Linked DNA regions of Homo sapiens: region 2 is linked to region 1. Evidence: fine-mapped expression QTL. A gene starts in region 1. The other region holds a variant in brackets. All regions are shown on one strand. Distances are between the middles of the regions.

What was found. PIP is the estimated chance that this variant, and not a neighbour inherited with it, causes the effect.
Region 2: its variant is fine-mapped to the expression of ANGPTL1 in skeletal muscle (GTEx, PIP 0.96).

What each region holds. Positions count from the first base shown.
Region 1 is chr1:178,867,280-178,876,582 of GRCh38, forward strand. ANGPTL1 (angiopoietin like 1) reads right to left here and starts at 3,798. Exons shown (of 6, transcript NM_004673.4): 1 at 3,462-3,798; 2 at 1,835-1,944. The region is part of intron 8 of RALGPS2 (Ral GEF with PH domain and SH3 binding motif 2); the gene reads left to right.
Region 2 is chr1:178,940,876-178,950,178 of GRCh38, forward strand. No RefSeq gene overlaps it. Among named protein-coding and RNA genes, the nearest start is that of ANGPTL1, 74 kb to the left of the region's middle. RefSeq lists a silencer at 1,805-2,005 and an enhancer at 5,413-6,198. The variant A/G (reference allele first, on the strand shown) is at 4,979.

The sequences.
Region 1 (9,303 bases):
CAGATGGAAAACTTGGCATCCAAAAGTTAAGTACCTTATTATCAAGAGTCACACAGGTTCATAGTGATGGAGCGAGAATTTGAATCCAGGCTGAAGACTTCAGAGTTCATGTTTTCAATCCCCTGTATTTATGTAGCTTAACACATGTTAACTATTTGCATTTATAACACTGAAGTAATGCTGTATCATTTTATAAAGGAGGAAAATCCTTGAGAAGCTAAATCACTCAAATGGGATTCAAACCTTCTACTCCTAACTTTTCTAGACCTATGATTTTTACCCTAGTCATGTCATAACCACAGAGGAGTCTTAAGTTTATGTTTCTTGTTTTTCGCTGCCTTTTCCTGGTTTATGTCCCTTTTCATTGACCGGTTACTTAATTATGCAAAAGTATTTATGGATAATTTTTGGTAGAATTTGTGTCCACGTTCTGCCAGATCATTTTTTTACATCTCAGACTCTTCTGCGGCAATTTCTTTCCTTCTGTATGTATTCTGTCAGCTGATAGTTATATATCTAACCTATGATTATGGACCCCTCCCGAAAACAAAGGTCATGTCAATGAAATATAACTCTTATGCTGTCGTCATGAAGACTACTGCTACTTTCACTTTCTAAAACCATGTTCCTTTTTTGGTATTTTTCAATTGAATAGTGTCTTCAAAATGGGTAGATAATGAAAATAAGGCAAATATAGATGGAGTATGGAGAATTATTATTATTTTACTAACAAGAGAGGGAATGAAAACAAAAGATAGGGAGGACATAACAATCTGTATTTCTATCGAGGCCTTCTTTTGCTGACTGATAGCCAAAGCACACATGGGTATTTTTTTTAGCTTTTTATGTTTTCATACCTTGCTTTCTGACATATATAGAAAATTTAGAAACAGTCATCTATTTTATTTTTAAAAATAGACTTTTACTATGTAGGAGTTACCTATACCAAAAACCAATAAAACATTTATTATATCTCCAGATTCGTGGAATTTAGATATGGGTTATTTTAAAAACTAGGGACAAGAAATAAAAGCCATCATCCTCCTGGGCACATGCATATCATTTTTCCTATATATTTAATTTAACTTACCACTGCTAAAGTCCATTCATTTTAATACTAGAATGGAAACTCTGAGATCATAAAATTATTTTACTTAAATAATATTTACTATGAAATAAACTACCAAAACAAGGAAAATGCAGGAAGTAATATAAAACTCTAAAACAAATAGAATTTTATGAGCAATATTCTGATTGAACAGCTTGTATTAATACCAGACACAGATTTTTATAAAACAGCTAAAAGCGCATCATCCAAGACTGCTGTTAGGACTTTGCATCAGTGTTGTCATTGAAGAACAAAAAACACCAAAATGCTAATCTAAATTAAAACAAAAACAGCTTCCTTGTGTGTATTCTGCCTTGGCTCATTGTGGTTCCTATAAGATTAAATCATAAGATAAATCACTGTTTACCATAAGAGAAAGTGGTCTAAATTAGCATTTAAAGGAGGCAACTAAAAGTTTAGTTTTTAAATAAATATAATTTTTTTTTAATAAATACAAAAGTATTGGCTTCACTGTCACTTAAAGCAGGGCAAGGAGCCACATTTCTTAAGTAGTAGACTAGCTACGTCAGGAGTAAAGAACTGGTTTTAAAAATACATTTACTGTTATGTTTTCTGAAAACATTCTCTTATTTAATATTTTCTCACATATGTTCAGTTTTGAAGCAAAAGATCCATAAATCTATGTTACCTCATAAAACTTTCTGTATATGTTAAAATTTTCCTAGGCCCCAAGAGAATGTTATAAATTAGTTATAGAATACTTACGTTTAAATTTAAGTCTTTACTTAGTTGTTTTTAGAAGAGAAAAAAAAGTCTTCTATGCGTTGGGTTAATTTTATTAGTAGCTTTTCTCTTCATAGTTGCTATATTGCCAGCTAGTAGAGAGAAGAAACGAAAGTCAGGATTTGCCTCCTTTCAGATGGTAAACTCACAGAGGCATTTAACTGGCTGTGTCATGCACTGAAAACAGCATGAGGCAATGAAGTTAAATTTATGAAGCATTCAGGATATGTTAGATAAAGAATTTCTAGATTGTGAAATATGTTCTGGGAAGAGACTTGAGAACAATCTAATCCCCTGGATATATTTAAGAAAAGGATAAATAGTTATCTGTGTAATTTGGGGTTCAGATTAAATGCCTGCCTTAAGACAGCGTCAGTAAGAACTGAGGCTTAATGAAGTCCTGCACTTCCCATAGCATGCAACAACAAAAAAGAGAGATGACAGTATTTCAGATCCACTGTTGCTTGGAAATTTTGTTAGAATTTCTTGTAAAATATGTGTTTAACAGAAATCCTGCCAGCATTTACAGTTTTAAATCTTTAAGGAAAGGACACAAAAGCAAAGTTGGAAAAAATTTTAGCTTTACCATTATTTGCTTGTTCAAGATTCTTAACCATTAATATCTTTAATTTTTACAAGGCTAAAGGAGCCCCAAATCTAACAAACTTAAGTGTCTTTGGTTTAAGGCATACTATTGGTAACGAGTAATTTTATCTTTAATAGTTTTTATAATGCATGTAAAAAAAGCTCCCAGATAGAATATTGAAGGAAACCTCTTATGTGTGCTTAACAAAATTATTTCTACCTAAAATATTACATATTTTTGGCCTTTTAGTCATGAATTTAATTACATCTTCTGGGTTCTTATTTTCTATTGTTAATACCACTTACATAATGCTTTTGTGTGTATATCAATAACTTAGCTTTTCCAAGTGATTCCATTTGTAGCAAGTTTAATTTCTGTCATCCAAATTAAATTACTATTACATGTAAGCCTGGAAAGCTATTTAAAATTTTGAGTTGGAACAAGAAATGCCATAGATTAATCTTAAATCTGTACAAGAATTTCTGCTTAATATTTGGTTATACTGTAATTGAGATTTTGTTGCAAAGACTTTCAACTATTTTTGTATCTTAGCTTTGTTTTATGACTACACTGAGAAATCCAACAGTTTATGTATATCTTCAGCACACACACTGTGGCTGCAGGAAGAGAAACTAATTGTGTTCACGACTATTTAGTTTGTATTCCTTTGTTTTTAATCATTGTGCTGTAAGCCTTATACATTTAATCTGTTACTTGTTAAAATTTCTTTCTACTGTCACTAAAGCACTTGTTTTCAGAAACCCAGCATGGCATGCATGTATCAGTCTGTAATCATATACACTAAACATCATTAAATTGAACCTCAAATAATGCATTAACCATTGCACAGTACTTAATGTTTTTATGTCAAGTTGCAAGATAAAACCTTTTTCAGATGAGATAAACTGTAGTATATTCCAAAGGTCTTTGTTTAGTAAAAGATTCTGAAATTTCTACTACAAATATAAAATAGTTATGCATTTGCTATACATAATATTTTTAAATAAAAGAAATATTAAATACCTTTTTGTGTCTGTTGATTCAGTGAATCCAGAAACTTGCTGCCCTTATTCTTGATTTTAAAAATCAGTGTAGAAGTTTGTTCATCTGTGACTTTAATGGCAGCTGCATTTTTGTTTTGGACCGTTGAATCCAAGCTGTAAGAAGGAACTTCTTTTTCCTTTTACAATACTAATCAATTGAATTTGACAAGCCACCTATGTAATTTTAAGTAGTATAGTGGAAGTTCTGGTCTGTGGGCCGTCTTTAATCCAGCAGAGAAAGCGTTGTGGCTTTGCTCTGTCTGCCACATGGAGAAATGCAGTAACCAGCTGCAGCTGACCCAGATTGTATATACAGTACCCCTGAATAGTGATTCCCTCTTTCTCAGTAGACTCAAGTTCAGCCCACATATTACATCACCAAAAATTGCTGGAGACTGGGGGCGGGAATCTCCTTAGGATTTCCTCTTTGTAGCCTTAAATAGGGGGGTGGGATCAGCAGGAGGTTGAATAGTTTTGAACAAGGAGAGATTGTGTGCAGGTTGAAGGAAGGGCACCATCTGGAAACAAACTATCATAGTTCAGCGGGCAATTATAAAACAAACATTTTAGTCTGCTGGCCAGAGATCTTTTAAGTTGAATACCGAAAAAAAAAATAGTGCTCCACTTCACTTAGAAGTAGTTGCAGGCTGATGAGTTTGGTTTTTGTTAACAAAGAACAAGAGCTAGACTTTGTCAGGAGGCAGCCACCTAAATAATGTAATAAATACTCTTTATAGCCTAGAAGAATTTGTAAACATTTTACTAAGTTGCTAATGAAGGTTTTAAACTTACAAGAAACTTGATGTTGTTGTAGTATGTTATGTCTTACTGTGTAATGTGTCTTAAGATAAAACAGCCTTTATATATAATTACCAAACATAAGTGAAATTCTTTCAGATGCTTAAGACTTTTAAATATTACATTCTGGTGTTACATAATGTCATATCCTCCTATTCTACAAAATGACCTCTCCTCTCTGTAAAAGGTCATTCTTGTTATTAATTGATGTGGTGTGGTTTAAAAACAAACATAACCCTGAACTGAGTAAAAAACAAGGAAGCTCTGACTCTATGCCAGCTATGTGAACTTAGACAAATCACTTTACCTGCCTCTGGCAAGGTTCTTCTGCTATGAAATAAGGTGGTGGAAGAAATGAATAAGTGTTGAGTACAACTATACTATTGTATTTCATTAATTGAAGAAATGTTAAATAACTCAGTAGCTGAAGAAACACAAACTTAGGCTTAAGTAACTTAGCTTAGCACTTAAGTACTAAGTAGTGGAACTGGGATTTGAATCTAATGCCAAAGCATTATGCCACACTCTCTGTCATTGATTACCTAGTTGCTGTAAGCTGCTTCTAGATAAAACTTTTGGGCTTTCTCTACATACCTGTGCTTTCCCTTCCTTATTGCTGTAGCTTGTGCTGTGTTTCTCTTTCTGTTAGGCCACACTGTTGATCCACATCCTTTATTTAAAGTCTGAGCTTATTTTCTACCTCTTTCACAGAATCATTTATTTGAATTCCTATGCCATATATAGGTATACCAGAGGTTGCAAACACAAGGGCCTAGAAAGGCAAATGCTCACAAGAAGAATGGAGCAGGTAATATAAATCAGTGAAGTAAATCAGTAGTAAGATACTGGAGGGAAATGAAGTTTATGGCAAGTTGGCATCCTTTTGGTTAATTTAAAGGGATCTGCCTGCACCTTCTCAGCTGTGCTTGTGGCCATGAAGGATTATGAGACAGTGTTGCCAGATCTTCCCATTATTCAGGAAAAAAGAGCCATTTAGATTTTTCCTGTAATACTTCCTGATTTTAAAAAACATTGGGACAGATGTGCTGCCAGCTTCTGGCCTCTGATTTGTATTATGTATCGTTTCTTGAGCATTCAGTAATTATGTTGTAGTCACTAATGGCTTAAATCTGGGAAAAATAAGAGATAATAAATTCTTTCTGAGCTTTTAAACTTTCAGCAGTTTGGAGCTTTCTAACTTGAGCACTTAGTAATATCACTAGCCAGGGTAGGAAATTGGAATGACAGGTATTTAGGGACAGATTATGGTTAGATATGTTAAATTGAAAATGAAAGTCAGGAGCTCAGTTATATGGAGAGATTTGAAAGTCACCAGCAATTAGGTAGTAGCTAAAGCTATGGAACTAAGATACTAGAGAAAGTACATGTAGAATGTAAAGGAAGGTTAATGACAGACCATGATACCAATTTCCAGGAAACCAGCTTACAAGAAACATGAGGAAAAAGAAGAATGGTGGGGGCTTAGGGGGAAGATACGAAAGTTCAAGGTAGGGAAAACCTGAGAACTAGACGAGAATGGTTACAATACTGCAGAGACATTACATAGGGAGGGGAGACCAAGAGAGATGTTTTAAGACTTAGAATGAGAAAGTTATTAATGCCATTGCCAAAATAAGTGATACATACAGATTTCAGATTATTTAGTGTGTTGAAGGGTGACTAGATAAAATTTAACTGACAAATTAGTGTCCACAATACATTAAGAAATTAGAAATCCATAAGAAAAAGACAACCCAAAAGAAAAAATGAACAGAAACATTTATTACATAGAAATATATACGTTTAACCTTATTACTAATCAAGGAAATAAAAATTAAGACACAGAGAGATACCATTTTATACTCAGAAGATTGGCAAAATTGAGATGGATAATACCAATTGTTAGCACAAATGTGGATCAACAGAAGCTTATATACCGTGAGTGGGAGTATGAATTGATACAGCTTTGAAAAATAATGTGACACCATCTTGTAAAGTTGAATATTAATATACTTTAGCACTTGGCAGTTTTGCTCCTAGGCATGTTTGTATATCCTGAAGAAATTTTGTACATGTGTACTGGGAGATGTGTATAAGAATGTCTATAGCAACATGGTTGGGGGTGGGATGGGAGTAACTCAAAAGTCTATCAAATAAAATGGATGAGTTACAATTGTCACACATTAGCTTGTTCTCATTATAAGGAATTACAGCAGCATTTAACAGCGTGGACAAGTCTTAGAAACAAAATAGACGAAGCAACCACAGAAGACCATATTTTTAAATTTTATTTAATAAATGCTTATAAATCACTTGGTATGTACTAGACACTTTTTTTTTGAGACGGAGTCTTGCTCTGTCACCCAAGCGGGAGTGCAGTGGTACGATCTCGGCTCACTACAAGCTCCGCCTCCTGGGTTCTCGCCATTCTCCTGCCTCAGCCTCCCATACTAGACACTTTTCTAACATTACAAATACTATTATTTAATCCACACATACAATAAAATATGATTTTTAAAGCTCAAAAATAGGCAAAAGTAGGAATACAGACAAATGTCGGGGAAAAAATAAGGGAATGATCTTAAAGTTCAAGGTAATGGTTACTTCTGGACAGGAAGCAAGGAGATGAAGTAGAGAAGGAACATACAGATAGATGCAACAGTATTGATGATGTCGTAGTTCTTTTTTAAAGTAGTTTACCCCAACATATTAAAATATTAACATGTAACCAATAAAAAAGTTAATAGATATTTTACATTAATTTTTCATGTTAACTCTTCAAAATCTTGTCTATTTTATATTCAAATACACCTCAATTCAGAATAGACCCACGAAACAGTAGTCACATGTGGCAAGTGGTTATATTGGACAGCACAGTATAGCGAGTGACTACAGGCGAGTTGTCATCTGAGTTTAATAAGATGGAAGAATGGCAAGAACTGGCACATTAGTACCCCGCTCAAATCCCACTTCTTCCTTGAAGCTTTCTCTGATCCCATCAGCAAGGAATGACATTTTTTTGCACAGAATTCTTATGAAACTCCTGTTTAAACTTTTCTGTGCTACTTTTTTATATCTTCTATTGCTGTTATTGATGTACATATGCCAACATCCCCGTGCCATTTCCTTGAGGAATCTTTTAGCTCTCCTTAGGGATGTTGTAGTCATAAGTTGACTGGTCTTTCACAAATGTTTATTATGTTGTTTGATAACAACAAGTGTCACATGTGTTGATAATTTTTTCTTAGGGCAGGAGTCTCACCATGTTGCCCAGACTGGTCTCAAACTCCTAAGCAGTCTGCCCGCCTCAGCCTCCCGAAGTGCTGAGATTACAGGCATGAGCCACCGTTCCCGGCAATAATTTTTGTGAAATCACGATTCTCACACAAATATGAAATGAATATGTGTCAGAATTTTCATTTAAATTATTAAATTTATAAGGGAATCAAAAATGTGTCAAGGGAGAATTCAAAGTAACACACATATATGCAATCAGGAACGCTGAAGTAAATTTACAAATAGTTGCAAAATTGGTCATCACTGATTAGATCCCACTGGACATAATTCTTTGGCATGTTTATGGACAATAATTTGTATTACCAGTTTTCAACAGCTGTGCAGAGTTGTAAAATAGCTCAGAAGGACCAAATGGGTGCACTGGAGACAGGATACCCAGTAATCTTTTTTCCCATCTCAAAGTTTTTCACAATTTTCCTGACACATGTGTATCAAATATTACATTAAAAATAGAACGAAGAATAAAAGAAGTGTACTATTGTATGTTTCTCTTCCAAGGTGTTTGTTGAAGGGAGGACAAGGATGTTATCTTGAGGCGTGGGATCAGATTTGAAGGAAGAGTTGCTTAGATTTTGTTTTATAAGTAGGGGAGATTTAAACATGTATATTGGGCCAGGTGCAGTGGCTCATGCCTGTAATCCTAGCACTTTGGGAGGCTGAGGCGGGTGGATCACTTGAGACCAGGAGTTCGAGACCAGCCTGGCCAACATGGTGAAACCCCATCTCTACTAAAAATGCAAGAACTACCCAGGCGTGGTTGCGCATGCCTGTCATCTCAGCTATTCGGGTGGCTGAGGCACAAGAATCACTTGAACCCAGAAGGCAGAGGTGGCAGTGAGCCGAGATCGCACCACTGCATTCCAGCCTGTGACAGAGCAAGACTCTTTCTTGAAAAAAAAAATGGTTTAAAAAAAAATATGTATACTGGCTCTGGGGAAGGAGCCAGTAGGGGTGAATGATAGTAGAGGCAACAGTGGTTGTCTGGAAGGAGGCAGCAACGATTGCATTCAAAATTACAGTTGAGATTTCGGAAGAAGAGAGAGATGATTCTTCCTCCAAGATTGGGGAAAGTGGGAAGAACCTCAGCTTCATTTGGAACCTCAAGATTCATTTGGAGTCATAGGGAAATAAAGTTGAGGTTATCTAAAGAAAAAAAAGTATGATAGGTGACTTAAAGAATACTGTAAAGATTTACTGAGTGGAAAATGAATGATACTAGGATGAGTAAAAAGATTGCCATGCCAACCTTTTATGTTAAGCACCTATTGTCAAAACATTGCACAAGATTTTCTTTCTCTTGGAGTGCAAGATAGAGCAACTGCCTTAAATGAGTTTGCAGTCTTGAATAGATAAGATATAAATGTAAAAAAAATAAGTAATGAGATTTTGAAGTCATAAAAGTCATTAAGTGAATAGTAAGCACACATAATGTATGATTTTTTAATAGAATATAAGTAATTTTTTTTTAAATTGGGCTATAAGTGAAACGTCTGAGATCCAGCTGTCACTAACAGGTTGCATGGCATTAGACAGGTCCCTTTACTATCTATGTATTTCAGGTTCTTCATCTATAAAAGGAGAGGATTAGACTAGACAGTGTCTGAATTCCTTTCTTGGAATCTGTGAGAAAACTAGAGAATATTGACACCGAATTAGATAAGCAAAATATAAGATTTGGATAGGCAGAGATAAGTCCAGAAAACATTTTAGGTATAAGAAAAAGCTGA
Region 2 (9,303 bases), 74 kb after region 1:
CATTTCACCATTTTGCCCAGGCTGGTCTCGAACTCCTGACCTCAGGTGATCCACCTGCCTCGGCCTCCCAAAGTGCTGGGATTACAGGTGTGAGCCACCACACCTGGCCCCTAATTATGTTTTTTAGAATTAACGTGCAGAGAAAAAAGATTTGGAAGAACAGTCACCAATATGTTAACTATCTCCAAGTAATAGAATTGAGAATTTTTATTCACTTATGTATTCTTCTGGGTGTCCTGAAAAATTTTTTGCAGCAAAGGACATTTCAACGAAACAAATTGATAGTATAAAGGAGGGGAAATGCTATTTTCCACTTAAAAGGAAGGAAGTTCAGGATACTCAAAATAGAACTCTTCATCTCCCTCCCTAACCTGACTCTCTTCCTGCATCCCCAGTTCTGAAAATAGCACCAGGTTCTCACCAGCCCACGTCCCACAGGCATCCCAGCCTCCTACCTTCCCTAAACCCATTCATCCAATTACTTACTAAGTCTCCACATGCAGCTTCCTTCATACTTAAATTTCCTGACTCCTGTTCACACAGGTGCCACGCCCACTGCCTCTCAGTTTGGGTTTCCACTACCTTGCTTGCTACCGATGGGGCTAGGCTGGCTCCTCAGCATGCTCTCCGCCTCCATGCGGGCACCCTGCAGCCGTGGTGATCTTCCCTGAAACCCACATCCGCTCCTGCCACGGGCCTGTTAAAAACCTGCAGTGGGGCTGGGCGCAGTGGCTTATGCCTGAAACCCCGCACTTTAGGAGGCCAAGGTGGGCGAATTGCCTGAGATCAGGAGTTTGAGACCAGCCAGGGCAACACGGTGAAACCCCGTTTCTACTAAAAATAAAAAAAATAAATTAGCTGGGCGTGGTGGTGCATGCCTAATGCCAGCTATTCAGCTATTGAGGCATGAGAATTGCTTGAACCCGGGAGGCAGAGGTTGCAGTGAGATCGCACCACTTCACTCCAGCCTGGGCGGTACAGCAAGACTGCCTCCAAAATAAATAAATACGAATAAAAACCCGCAGCGGCCTCCTCATTTCCAGAGCACACTGGAGCAACTTGCATGGCTTCCAAGGCCCTCCGTGATCCGATCCTGCCCACCTTCACAGGCTCCGGCCTTGCAGCCCTTGCCCTGCACCCTCCCACCCACCATGAGCAACAGCTGGAGGTCCCCCCCCATGCATCATTGTCTCCCTGACTCAGAGCCTTTGCCTGTGCTGCTCCCGTGCTTGGAACGCCCTTGCCTTCCCCATCCTGTTTCCCCCGGGTCACCCCTGCCACTTTACCGGCTCCTCAACACAGTCTCTTGCGTGCTCCTGCATGCTTTCACGCCTGTGTCTTTGCTTAGCGTTGGTGATTCCTCTTGTCTTTGTCTGTCTCCCCACTGCTGTCTGACTTCCTCGAGGGCCAGGAGCTTTCATCTGTGTCCAGGCACTGCCCATACTGCCTAGCATCTCCTAACCACTCAGTAAGCGAGTTAAGGACTGAGTGGATAATATTGATTCTTTACATTCATGCAGCTCTTTATGATTTTTCTAAGTACTTTCTTATGTGTGTTTGCGGTTGGGTTTTGTGCCCCTGAACTTGTTTTCAGCAGTATTGCCTGCACCATCTGCATTCTCACTTGAGGCTGGCAGACAGGAGAGGTGGTGAAAGTGAGGTGCAGCATGACCCGGAGGGGTCCTGCTGCCCAGGTCACACAGCTGGTGCCTGGAAGACCCAACAGCCCTCCGTCTCCGCCTGTGTTCTCCCCCGCACCCCATGTCTCCCATATGCTGGCTCCACTGCGCTGGATTTGGAGACTGTGCTGGATCTGGAGTCTGCACTGGGTAGTTGCCCACAAAGAGATGGAGATTGTCAGCCACTTCAAATCCTGGCTTCCCCCTTTTCCTGTCATGCTTTTAAGCCAGGAGATACAAAGAGGAAACCACAGCTCTTGAGATGAGCTACTCAAGAGCATGCAGTCTTCTACCATCAACATTTTCTAGAGACGAAGCCGACTCAGTTTGTGTGGATTTCGCCTCTCTGGAGGAAACACAAATTCACTAATCCCTTCCATTTTAATCAAGCCTGGGAGGGAAGGGCTGCCAGGGGATCCTTTCCAGAACGTAGTCAGTGGGGAAAATGCAGAGCCCCTGCCTTCTGACTCACCGGCCAGCAGACCACTTCCTGAGACGGTACATGAGGCAATGACTGAAATTGTGGCTGTGGCTCTGCCAATCAGCCGGATTCGGGAGATGTTTCTCTGAGGTAGAATGACATTAAAAGGGCCCTGTCCCTGGCACATCTAAAGTGATCCTCACCTGAGCCTTTCATTCAGTCTCACTCAGAGAGGGCTTCTCAGCTACTCTCCACCCAAGCAGGGCCAGAGGTGCACTTTCACTACCCTTTTCCCGAGAAGGTACCAGGGTGGGGGTGGGAGAGACTGGGAGGACTACCCCCCATTCCCCGATTTCTGCTCAGATTATCCTACAAGCTAGAGTGTGAAGCCCTGGGATAGACACTGCCACCACAAGAGCAGAAAGTCATACAGCTGAGCTCAGTAAACTCTTAACCAGCAGCTACCATGTGCCAGATATTATGCTGAGAGCTGATCAGATAGGGATAAATTAGACATGGCTGGCCAGGCGCCTCACGCCTGTAATCCCAGCATTTTGGGAGGTCAAGGCAGGTGGATCACCTGAGGTCAGGAGTTTGAGACCGGCCTGGCCAACATGGTGAAACCCTGTCTCTACTAAAAATACAAAAAATTAGCCGGGTATGGTGGCAGGTGCCTGTAATCCCAGCTACTCCAGAGGCTGAGGCAGGAGAATCGCTTGAACCCAGGAGACAGAGGTTGCAGTGAGCCGAGATTGCACCATTGCACTCCAGCCTGGGCAACAAGAGCAAAACTCCATCTCAAAAACAAAAACAAACAAACAAAAAAATTAGACATGGCTCCTTGACCAGGCAAAAGAATGCACACATATACACAACCAATATGTCCAGAAGATAGTGAAGAGAGGTACAAATCAGGTGCTGTGGAAGTTCAGGAAAGACTGTTTCCAGTTGAGAATTCGAGAAAGGCTTCTTGGAGGAGCTGGCATTATTTTAGCTGGAACTTGAAGTGAGGGTAAAATTGGGGCAGAAAGAATTATTGCTTGAGGGTTTGGGGGGATGGGGTGGTAAAGATAGTAAAGGCTTCTCAAGCTGCAGTATCTGTGATTAGGTTGACTCACATGAAATTGCTGATAGTCTATCGGTATTGACCTACAATAACACCAACTTCAGATGGTCCAACATCATACTTCCTGGGTACAACATGGAAGTGGGAAAACACCACTTGTAGAGAAAAACCCAGGCCAAAGAAGTTCAATGTCTGTCAGCAACTGGTAAACTTACACTAATTTAACCTTTTAATAATGTGTTGACAGAGATTGTCTAGGGATGGCATTTTCTACTTTCTCAAAACAGGACTAGGCCGGGCACAGTGGCTCACGCCTGTAATCCCAGAGCTTTGGGAGGCCAAGGCAAGTGGATCACTTGAGATCAGGAGTTTGAGACCAGCCTGGTCAATATGGTGAAACCCCGTCTCTACTAAAAATACACAAATTAGCTGGGCGTAGTGGCGGGCACCTGTAATTCCAGCTACTCAGGGAGCTGAGGCAGGAGAATCACTTGAAACCGGGAGGCGGAGGTTGCAGTAAGCCGAGATTACGTCACTGCACTCCAGCCTGAGTGACAAAGTGAGACTCCATCTCAAAAAAAAAGGATTGGTGTTATAGTTTGTCTATTGTCCAAAGACCAGTTCTATTAGTCTGTCCTCATGCTGCTAATAAAGACATACCCAAAACTGGGTAATTTATAAAAGAAAGGGGTTTAATCGACTCACAGTTCTACATGGCTCGAGAGGCCTCGCAATCATGGTGGAAGCCAAAGGGGTAGCAAGACATGTCTTATATGGCAGCGGGCAAGAGAGCATGTGTAGGGGAACTCCCCTTTATAAAACCATCAGATCTCGTGAGCCTTATTCACTATGATGAGAACAGCACAGGAAATACCCACCTCCATGATTCACTTACCTCCCACCGGGCCCCTCCCATGACATGTGGGGATTACTACAGTTCAAGGTGAGATTTGGGTAAGGACAGAGAGCCAAACCATATTACCAGTCCAAGTGAGACTTTGCACTTCACAACTGGACTGAATTTACAAGTCACAGGAAGGCAGTATTGTACCCCGAGTCCGAAATATTTGAGTCTACATTCCAACACCACTGCATATGAACTGTGTGATCAGCTTCATAACTTTCTGAGGCTTGGTTTTCTCACCTGGAAAATGATGACAAAAATAATACTTCCCTTCCTCACAACGTAGTTGAAATGATTAAATGAGATGGTGCCTGTACACTGCTTAACACAATGCTGGCCTATAGGCAGCACCCAGTAGCTGTTTGCAGGGTCATCATTTATGTCAAGAGCACAATGAGCACTGAGGGATGACCCCATGTCCACGAGTCACAAAAAGAGTTGCATCTTTGCGTCTTAGAGCCATAGTGTGTTTCGATGGAGGCAGCAGGACGGTCGCCTATTTGAGCACCTATTTTAGTCTTAAGTAGAAAAGGGAGAAAGAAGATACAAGAAAATATGTGATGCTTGAGTTTCTCAGGTTAGAAGGACAAGAAGCTCCACATGATCCCATTCAGCCATTTAGTTGCTTTCAGCCTCAGAGCAAACCTTCTAAGGAATTTCATATTCCCAGGTCTCTCCTGGCAGGCACGCCTGGCTCAGAGGTAGATTTTTTTTTTTTTTTTTTTTTTTGAGCAAAAGGGTTTCTGCAAGGTACCAAGTCAACCACCCTGGAGTGGTTCCCAGGAAAGCAGTGGTGATGGCTTGGGCACCAGAGGCTCGGGAAAAACAGGTGCTCGGCTTTCCAGGAAAAGAAATCTTGGCCACTCAGAGGGGAATCTGAAACCAGAGAGGTAAGGTAGCTGAAGCGC[A/G]TGTCCCAACCAAGCCTGGGACGGGCCAGGCACCTGGGCAGGACTCCTCTCTGCTGCACCAGGCGGGCGTGGACGCTTACTTTCTTGGTTCCCGAAGCACTCTCCTGCTGGGGATGGCGACAGTGACCACCCTTAGGAAGACTGGCTTGCATCAGTACGGATTTTTAAGCAATACACAGCATTCTAAAGTCAATAGGGTTTGTGATGGGCGCTGCTCCGAGTAAGGAAGCGGGTGTGAGGGCACAGTCTCTGGCAGCCCCTCCTGACTGCTGCCTGTCCTTGGTGAACCGAGGGGAGGCAGGGCGTGCAGGGGCCGGCTCTGTCTTTCGGTTCCCAGGGCTGACTCAGCAGGCATCTTCCCCTGTGTTTCTCTTCATCTTCCCTCCCCTCCCTTCTAACAGGAGTTGGTGGAGCTGAGGGCAGGGACAAGTTTTAAATGCTCTGGGATGGCGCCGTCTTTGGGAAAAGAGAGCCTTGTAAAAGCCCCGAGAGCAGTTCTCTCTGCAGCCCTAAAAATTTTCCCTGCAGCTTGAATTTTTCATTCAAGTCACCATTTCCAGTCCTGCCGACAAGTCAGAAAATGGCTCTGACCGGGAGCAACAGCAGAGACAGAGGGCGGCCCAGAGACAGCGTGGTCTGATGCAGGGACACCTTGGAGCCATCCCAGAGCCCTGGGGACCAGTTCACGCTGTGATATTGGTTCCTCCCTCCACAATAGAGGCAGGCGCAGGCCAGAAATCCTGCCACACCGGAGTGGAGCTTCAGGCCTCAGCACATGAGGGGTCTTCTCTTTAATTCCCTGTCATCCGCACGCGCCCCCTGCTGCCCCTCACCTCGCCTCATCCAGGGAAGCTCTGCAGACTTTTCCCTCTAACTTCAAAGACGGCATCAGCCGCCACTTGGTCCCACCATGACTGTCCTTGAGGCACAAAACTACCAGGAGAGATTAGTTCTGCAGAAGCTGAGAGAGGGTCCGGTCCACACCAGGCTCTCCTCATTCAGAAATGAGTGAATGTGCAGGCCCAACTCAAGGACCTCAAACTGTAGGGGAGAGGATGGGAGGGGAGCACAAGGAGGGGCCCCATGGGGTCAGACACCTTTTCCTAAGGTGTTCAAGCACTGTCTGTGCTGGCAGCAGCCCCAGGAGGTGATATTTCAGTTGAAAACTGGAAAGGAGCCAGGGTAAGGGCAGTGTATTTGCAGAAGACCAGGAGGTAGAAATTGTGACTGCTTTGGCATCTGGGTGAAAACAGGAAGTAACACAAAATGAGCCTGGAAAAAGGATGGGAGCAAGATCAGAAATGGACTCACGGTTGGGCACAGTGGCTCACGCCTGTAGTCCCAGCAGTTTGGGAGGCCAAAGTTGGAGGATTGCTTGAGGCCAGGAGTTTGAGACCAGCCTGGGCAACATAGCAAGACCCCATCTCTACAAAAAAAAAAGTTTTAAATTAGTGAGGTGTGGTGGCACATGCCTATAGTCCTAGCTACTCCAGAGGCTGAGGTGGGAGGACTGCTTGAGACAAGAAGTTTGAGGCTACAGTGAGCTCAAACAGTAGAGTACAGTAGAGCCACTGTACTCTAGCCTGAGTGACAGAGCGAGACCCTATCTCTAAAAAGGGAGAAAAAAAAGAAAAGAAATGGCCTCATATGTGGTGGTGTGCTGGTCAATGTTTAACAGGCTGTGGACAGGGGGTGGGGGGGGCGAGTGCTGATTTGTAATGTTTGTACCAGTTTCTGTGGTGTTAATATTAGAATACCTCCCATTGTGGTTGACTTCACTCTACCAATGGTTTAATATCTGGCTCACCAAAATTCCTGCAAATTTAACAATCAACTTGCAAGCTGATAAGGGCTGGCTCGAACACGCCTGCATCATATGTCACCTGTTACCTTTTCACCCACTTCCTTGTCACAACATCCCTAAGCAGTCCTTGGAGGGAGGGGAACCACATTAATGAAGTCACTTCAGGCTGTTGCCACAAGTATCTCAGTCTCACTCACCTCCCCCTGCCCATGGCTGTTCCTTCTTTCTGTCCCTCATGGATGCAGGCATGGACATTTTTCCTGGAGTTTCATAAAAACCACTCACGTAAGGCATTTATAGTGTAGCCAACTTATAAAAACAAAGAAGGTTCACATCACAGCAATGCTACTCACATCAAATGAAATATTAAACACCCTATTAAATTTTTCCTTGGCCATTGACACAATCCTGGGCTTTGATCTTCTGCCATATTGCTTTTCCCCCATGCTCTCCAACCTTGGTTGACCCTTTTCTCCTTGACACTCCCCTCAAAATGCTTCTAGTCCATCATAGAGAGCAATGCGGCCCTCCCTAGCCACCTCCGCCCCAAGTCCTGTGTCCACCCTCTCCAACCTTGATTGACCCATCTTCCCTTGACACTCCCTCAAAATACTACCATGGAGAGAATGTGGTCCCTAGCCACCTCCACCTGGTACACAGTCCTGCACTGTTCATGTCATATTCAAGGCGCTGCAAATCTGTAGAATTCCCAGGCATGGAGAGGAATACCAACTACTGTTTACACCTGGCTCAATGCCCATTTATTAATCTTATGCATTTTTAACAATCATCACTCCTTAAACTATGAACATTACTCTAAATATTCACACACTACATAGCTAGTACATCAAACACGTATTTCAAACAAGGTCCGATTTCACACCTATTAGAATGGCCAAAATCCAAAAACACCAAATGCTGGCAAGGATGAGGAGCAACAGGAACTCTCATTCATTGCTGGTGGGAATGCAAAATGGTACAGCCACATTGGGAGACACTTTGGCAGTTTCTATAAAACTAAACATACTCTTTCTGTATGACCCAGCAATCATGCCTCTTGGTATTTACCCAAATAAATTGCAAATTAATGTCCATTTAAAAAAAAAAACCGCACACAGATGTTTACAGCAGCTTTATTCATAATTGCCAAAACTTGGAATCAGCCAAGATGTCCTTCAGTAAATGAATGGCTAAACTGTGGTATACCCAGACAGTGAAATATTATTTAGTGATAAAAGCAAATGAGCTGTCACGAAAAGGCATGGAGAAGACTGCAAAGCCCATATACTGTATCATTCCAACGATATGACATTCTGGAAAAGGCAAAACTATGGAGACAGTAAAAAGAACAGTCGTTGCCAGGGACTAGGGGTGAGGGAAGGATGAATAGATGGAGCACAGAGGATTTTTAGGGCAGTGAAAATATTCTGTGTGATACTGTAATAGTGGATACATGTGATTATACATTTTCCCAAACTCATAGAATGTACAACACCAAGAGTGAATGGTAATGTAAACTATGGACTCTGGGTGATGATGCCGCGTCAGTATAGGTACCACTGTGATTTGGGAAGTTGACAGTGGAGGAGATTGTGTGTGAGGGCAGGGCATATATGGGAATTCTCTGTATTTTCTGCTCAACTTTGCTGTGAACCTAACATTGCTCTACAAAATACAGTATATTAAAAAAACAAAATTGGCCGGGCGCAGTGGCTCACGCCTGTAATCCCAGCACTTTGGGAGGCTGAGGTGGGTGGATCACGAGGTCAGGAAATTGAGACCAGCCTGGCCAACATAGAGGAACCCCGTCTCTACTAAAAATACAAAAACTAACCGGGCGTGGTGGTGCATGCCTGTAGTCCCAGCTACACAGAAGGCTGAGGCAGAAGAATCACTTGAACCTGGGAGGCGGAGGTTGCGGTGAGCCGAGATCATGCTCCAGCCTGGGCAATAGAGCGAGACTCCATCTTGGGAAAGAAAAAAAAAAAAATCATGACCAGGTGTGGTGGTTCACATTTGCAATCCCAGTACAGGACTTTGGGAGGCCGAGGCGGAGGGATCCCTTGAGCCCAGGAGTTTGAGACCAGCCTGGACAATATAAAAAAGACCTCATCTCTTTTTTATTTTTTGTTTTAGTTATTTATTTTTTTCAGACAGAGTCTCACTCTGTCGCCCAAGCTGGAGTTTAGTGGCACAATCTCAGCTCACTGCAACCTTCACCTTCCAGGTTCAAGCATTCTCATGCCTCAACCTTCTGAGTAGTTGGGACTACAGGCATGCACCACCATGCCCAGCTAATTTTTGTGTCTTTAGTAGAGACAGGGTTTCGTCACATTGGCCAAGCTGGTCTCAAACTCCTGGCCTCAAGTGATACACCCGCCTCAGCCTCCCAAATTGCTGGGATTACAGACATGAGGCACCGTGCCCAGCCAAGACTTCATCTCTTAAAAAAAACAAAAAAACAATTAGCCAGATGTGGTGGCACAAGCCTGTGATCCCAGCTACTCAGGAGACTGAGGTG